Regions from separate parts of the Homo sapiens genome. Here region 1 is linked to region 2. The links come from fine-mapping of genetic effects on gene expression. A gene starts in region 2. The other region holds a variant in brackets. All regions are shown on one strand. Distances are from middle to middle. Region 1 overlaps BORCS8-MEF2B (BORCS8-MEF2B readthrough). Region 2 holds the start of BORCS8 (BLOC-1 related complex subunit 8).

What was found. PIP is the estimated chance that this variant, and not a neighbour inherited with it, causes the effect.
Region 1: its variant is fine-mapped to the expression of BORCS8 in cerebellar hemisphere (GTEx, PIP 0.97).

What each region holds. Positions count from the first base shown.
Region 1 is chr19:19,164,147-19,167,119 of GRCh38, forward strand. All of the region lies in intron 5 of BORCS8-MEF2B (BORCS8-MEF2B readthrough), which reads right to left. The region is part of intron 1 of MEF2B (myocyte enhancer factor 2B); the gene reads right to left. Among named protein-coding and RNA genes, the nearest start is that of MEF2B, 4.6 kb to the right of the region's middle. The variant A/G (reference allele first, on the strand shown) is at 1,404.
Region 2 is chr19:19,190,997-19,193,767 of GRCh38, forward strand. BORCS8 (BLOC-1 related complex subunit 8) reads right to left here and starts at 1,156. Exons shown (of 6, transcript NM_001145784.2): 1 at 1,085-1,156. The coding sequence starts at 1,121. It overlaps BORCS8-MEF2B (BORCS8-MEF2B readthrough), which reads right to left and starts at 1,156. Exons shown (of 12, transcript NR_027308.2): 1 at 1,085-1,156. It overlaps RFXANK (regulatory factor X associated ankyrin containing protein), which reads left to right and starts at 1,262. Exons shown (of 10, transcript NM_003721.4): 1 at 1,262-1,558; 2 at 1,964-2,104. RefSeq lists an enhancer at 2,039-2,128.

The DNA of each region.
Region 1 (2,973 bases), 27 kb before region 2:
AGTAGAGACAGGGTTTCTCCATGTTGGTCAGAATGGTCTCGAACTCCTGACCTTCAGGTGATCCACCCACCTCAGCCTCCCAAAGTGCTGGGATTACAGCCGTGAGCCCGGCCCTACTTGTTCACTTCTCACTGAAACACCTCATGGTCCACACAACAAATTTAAGGCCCCATCCAGCCCACAGGCTGCCAGTTTGTGGCCCTTCCTCTAAACAACCTTCACAGCAAAACAGCCAATTGGACAGTGCTGATGCTCCTCTCAGGCCAAGGAACTGGCCCTCTGAAGGTCCCACTGCCCAGCTTGGGAGAAAACCACGTCCAGGTGACCATCCATGGCAAACCTGACCTGGCACAGGCACCCTCACCTGCCAAGAAGGCCTGTTCCAGGCCGGGTGCGGTGGCTCACGCCTGTAATCCCACTACTTTGGGAGACCGAGGTGGGCAGATCACTTGAGGTCAGGAGTTTGAGACCAGCCTGGCCAACATAGTGAAACCCCATCTCTACTGAAAATACAAAAATTAGCCGGGCATGATGGCGGGCGCCTGTAATCCCAGCTACTCAGGAGGCTGAGGCAGGAGAATCACTTGAACCCAGGAGTCAGAGGTCACCCAGCCCATGGAGCCAAGACAGACCCCGCAGTCTGAATTTGACCCTGCTGTCCCATGCAGGCTAGAGTCTAAGGCCCTCTCAGGCCCCTAGTGATGTCCCCTAAGCCACAGTAGTGGCTGCAGGGACAGCCCAAGGTTTTCCTCTCTTTGTTCCAGAGAAAGCTCTCCCTGCGGGGCCTCAGAAATGGATCCCCAGATGCCCCAGCCTCCCTGCTTGGGAAATTAGCACATCTGTCAGCGCTGGGCAGAAGGGACCCTGCCCACAGCCCGGCAGCCCGAAGATGCAGCCAGCAGGGACCCCGAGATGGGGCTTTAGGACACTGTCAGTCCCCAATATCTTCCCGCAGAAATGTCTAGGAGCCCCTCAGGTGCTGGGGATGCAGGAGCAGGGGGTGGGCAGAGCAAGGCCTCCCCCCATCACCCAGTCTGATGGGGGAGGCAACAGCAGCCACATAACCGTATCTGGGAAGACGGCCTTCAAGGAAGAAATTCAACAGGGGGAGGCAGTGGAGGGTGGCAGGGAGAGAGCTGCTTTGGACAGAGGATCCAGGAGGGTACCACACCTGTAATCCCGGCTACTCAGGAGGCTGAGGTATGAGAATTGCTTGAACCCGGGAGGCGGAGATTGCAGTGAGCCGAGATCGCACCACTGCACTCCAGCCTGGGTGACAGAGCAAGACCCTGTCTCTGAGGTGTCTCAGGGAGGTGGGAGCCAGGTGGACACAATGGCAGGTGCAAAGGCCCTGAGGTGGGACTGTGCTAAACAGGTGGCTTCCAGGAGCAGGCAAACCCCAC[A/G]CATCTGGGGTGGAGTGAGCCAGGAGTGGCCAGAGACAGAGAAGGTCAGAGAGGCATTGGGGGACAGAGAGAGGGTGGACTGTAGAGCAATAGGGAGCCATGGAAGGTGTGTGAGGAGGGGGAGGACTGTGGTCTGATTTGGAATTTTCAGAAGACCCTGTGGCCTGTTGGAGCAGGAAGCCAGGCCAGCATCCAGCCAGGGATGGTAGGGCTTGGACCAGGCACAGGCCACAGGTTGGAACAGTGGGCAAGGCAGGCCCATGCCCACAGCAGCCATGACTCTTATTACAATCCACCTCCATTTCTCCCTTCCTCAGGCCCCACCTTGACCTTGGGTGAAACTGGGCTTGGAGGGAAACAGCACCTGGCAGAGGGCAGAGAGGAAAGGGGCCTGGATGGGCTCACAAACACCTCCACTTGGTCACAGCCCAGATGGGACCTTCTGTTATTGAGCCCTTACTGTCTGCCCGGGCCCACACCCCGCCTCATTTACATATAAGACCTGCCTGACCCCCAGACACCCCAGGGAAGCAGCGATAGTTGCCCTGTTTTGCACAGGAGTGGGCAGGCTTCTTCCAGGGCCACATGGTGAGACCTCCAGATCCCCACCCAATCCTGGGCTTGTACCCCAGGGCCATCACGTGGCACCTCAATCTCACCACCCCCACCCAGGCTGGGAAGTGGGCCTGGGCTTGTCCAGCCCAGAATCACCGTCACAGGGTCCAAGAAACTCAATCCTGGGCCGCAGGGTATCAGGGTAACCACACAAGTCCCCAAGATACAGCCCCAGAGAGGCCCTTTGGGGGCTGAGAAATGGGATTTAACTTCCTTGCCCACCCCATGGGGAATCATGGGCCAGGGCTGGGGCGAGTTCCCTGACCCCAAAAGGGATCCCAGACACATTTCTAAGTCGTCTCAGAAAAATGGCATCTGGTTGGGCTCATGCCTGTAATCCCAGCACTTTGGGAGGCCGAGGCAGGAGGACCATTTGAGCTCAGGAGTTCAAGACCAGCCTGAGCAACATAGGGAGACCCCCCCATCTCCAATTAAAAAAAAAAAAAAAGCCAGGCAAGGTAGCACTCCCCTACAATCCCAGCTACTCGGGAGACTGAGGTGACAGGATGGCTTGAGCCCAGGAGTTCAAGGTCACAGGGAGCCATGACTGCAACACTCAAGGAAAGACAGAAAGACATCTGTCTCTAGACCACTCTGTGCCTTGAATCTTCCAGAAGGGCAGGGCGTGGTGGCTCATGCCTCTAATCCCAGCACTTTGGAAGGCCGAGGTGGGCTGATGGCTTGAGCCCAGGAGTTCGAGACCAGCTTGGGCAACATAGGGAGACCTTGTCTCTATAAATAAATAAATAAATAAGTGGGCCAGGTGCGGTGGCTCACGCCTATAATCCCAGAACTTTGGGATGCCAAGGTGGGCTGAGTGCTTGAGTACAGGAATTCACGACCAGCCTGGGCAACATGACAAGACCCCATATTTATAATTTTTTTTTTTAATTAGCTGGTCACAGGCTGGCCACAGTGGCTCACGCCTGTAATCCCAGGACTTTGGGAGGCCAAG
Region 2 (2,771 bases):
ATGAAGTGATGTGTAGGCCTGTATTATGTATTCTAGATGTGAGTAATCTAGGGTGATTTAAAGTATAGGGGATTAGCTGGGTGCAGTGGTTCACACCTGTAATCCCAGCACTTTGGGAGGCCAAGGTGGGTGGATCACTCGAGGTCAGGAGTTCGAGACTAGCCTGAGCAACAAGGTGAAACCCCGTCTCTACTAAAAATACAAAAAAATTAGCTGGGCATGGGGGTGTGTGCCTGTAATCCTAGCTACTCAGGGGGCTGAGGTTGCAGTGAGCTGAGATCCCCCCACGGCACTCCAGCCTGGGTGACAGAGCGAGACTCCGTCAAAAAAAAAAAAAATTAAAGAATTAGCCTGATGTGGTGGTGTGCACTTGTAGTCCCAGCTACTGGAGAAGCTGAGGCAAGAGGATCGCCCGCGCCAGAGAGATCGAGGCTACAGTGAGCCATGATCGCGCCACCGCACCCCAGCCTGGGCGACAGTGTGATACCTTGTCTCAAAAAAAAAAAAAAAAAAGGAAACAAGACGCACAGCGATTACTACGCCCCGGGGATTCTTCCAATGCATTACAAATATCAGGTTGTTGAGTTTTTTTTTTTTAGACAGGGTCTCACTTGTCACCCAGGCTGGGGGTGCAGTGGCACGACCGTAGCCCACTGCAGTGCAGCCTTGACCTCCCGGGCTCAAGCAATCCTCCCACCTTAGCCGCCCAAGTAGCTGGGACCACAGGCGTGCGCCACCACGCCCGGCTAATTTTTGTATTTTTTTAGAGACGAGATCTCACTATGTCACCTAGGCTGGTCTCGGGCTCAAGCGATCCTCCCGCCTAGGCCTCCCAAAGTGCTGGGATTACAAAGCCACCACTCCCAGCCTCAGCTACTGAATTCTTGAAACAATCCTGGGGGGACCGGTAATTAAAGCAGACACGGAGCCTTTCTACAGGTTTCAAAACTAGTCAGCGGCAGAGCTGGGATTGGACGGCAGTTCAATCACTGCTCCTCGCACGGTCCCTCCGCGCCCGGCCTTTGTCAGGCCGCCCCTCCACAAGTTACCGGCCCCCTCTGTCCCGCCCGCAGGCCCGCACCACCTTTCTTCCCCTTGAGCTGCATCTCCGGCTCCTCCATAGCGACCGCGGCCGAGCGAACCGGGAAACGGCACCGGAAGCCCGGAGGTTGGGACGCCCGCCTAAGCCTTCCCTGCTGAAACCGGACGCCGCACGGCTCCTGTTCCGGTGTCAGAGGGCCCGCCCTCCCCGCTCCTCAGTCTTTGCGGACAAGAAAGGGGCTGTGTGAGACGCAGGGAAGGAGGCACACCCGGGGGTGGCGCAGTGAGGAGGGGGCGCGACGGCCAGGAGGCTGGTGGAGCGACACCCAGGCAGGAGAGGGGGAAGAACTCTCTCCCTTTCTGAACCCCCTTTTCCTTGAGAGACGAGTTGGGGGAGTCCTCCACGCATTACCCACTCGGGCCGCAAAAACTCCCTTCTTTAGCCCTCTGCCCCCGCCCTTGCTTATAAGCCTTTGAGACCGCAGAAGGGACCTTGTTGTGGAACGGGACGGCCAAGGTACGCTGCCCCTTTAAGTTCCAGACGCCCCGCGTACTTCCCCTACTTCTTCTTCTTGAGATAGCCCCGCCCATCTACCCGAAGCCGGAGCCAATTGGCTCCCTCTGGAAAAATCTGTGGGCAGGGTAAAGGTGAGCGGGCGCAGGCGTAGTGAAATTCTCAGAGCCCTTTAGGCCCCGCCCATTCCCTCCGAGTCGGTGAGGAGGGGAAAAGAAGGCGCAGGCGCAACTGCCCTCCCAGGACCCCAGCGGAACCCACGCCCTCCCCTAAGTCTTAAAGGGCCAGAGGCAGCACTTACTGCCCGGGCCCTTCCTCACTTTTGGGGGGCGGGGGTGCGCAAGCGCAGTGGGGGAGCTCTGGGGTGGGGGTAGCGGTCGAGTATCAAGTTGCTTTCTGTCCCGGCAGAGGAAGCCAGATCGCTGAGGGTCCGGTCTCCAGTTTGCCTCCTGCTATATCCATTGGAAGAGAAAAGTTTGTGACTTGGGCCCCCAAGTTTTGAGAGAACTGGGCTTTCGGCGCGGGGGGACAGAGGAGGCTCGTGGGGAGGTGAGTGGACCTCCTGGATCGATTTAGGAGGCTCGGGTGGGACTGGGACCAATCGCACCTTTGTTGAGCCGTCACTCATTATGGGGAGCCCCTCCCAACAACCATAGCGAATATTTATTGAGCTCCACGCTTAGCAGATCCCCCGATAAGCTATGTACAGACATAATTCGTTGTAGGTCTCATTTCCACATTTTGTCGTGGAGGAAACTGAGGCTCAAAGGTTAAGTCACGTGCCCAAGTTCTCACGGCCTATAAATTGAGGGATTCGAACCCAGACAGCTGACCCCAGAGCCCCGGCTTTTTTTTCCTTTCTTTTTTTTTTTTTTTTTTTTTTTTGAGACAGAGTCTTGCTCTGTCGCCCCAGCTACAGTGCAGTGGTGCGATCTCTGCTCACCGCAACCTCCACCTCCCGAGTTCAAGCAATTCTGCCTCAGCCTCCCGAGTAGCTGGGATCACAGGCGCCCGCCACCGCGCTTGGCTAATTTTTGTATTTTTAGTACAGATGGGGTTTCACCATGGTGGCCAGCCTGGTCTCGAACTCCTGACCTCATGATCCACCCTCCTCGGCCTCCCAAAGTGCTGGGATTACAGCCGTGAGCCACTGTGCCCTGCCAGAGCCCAGGCTCTTAAACATTGCACATTGTAGGTGCTTTGGTGGTGGGGAATG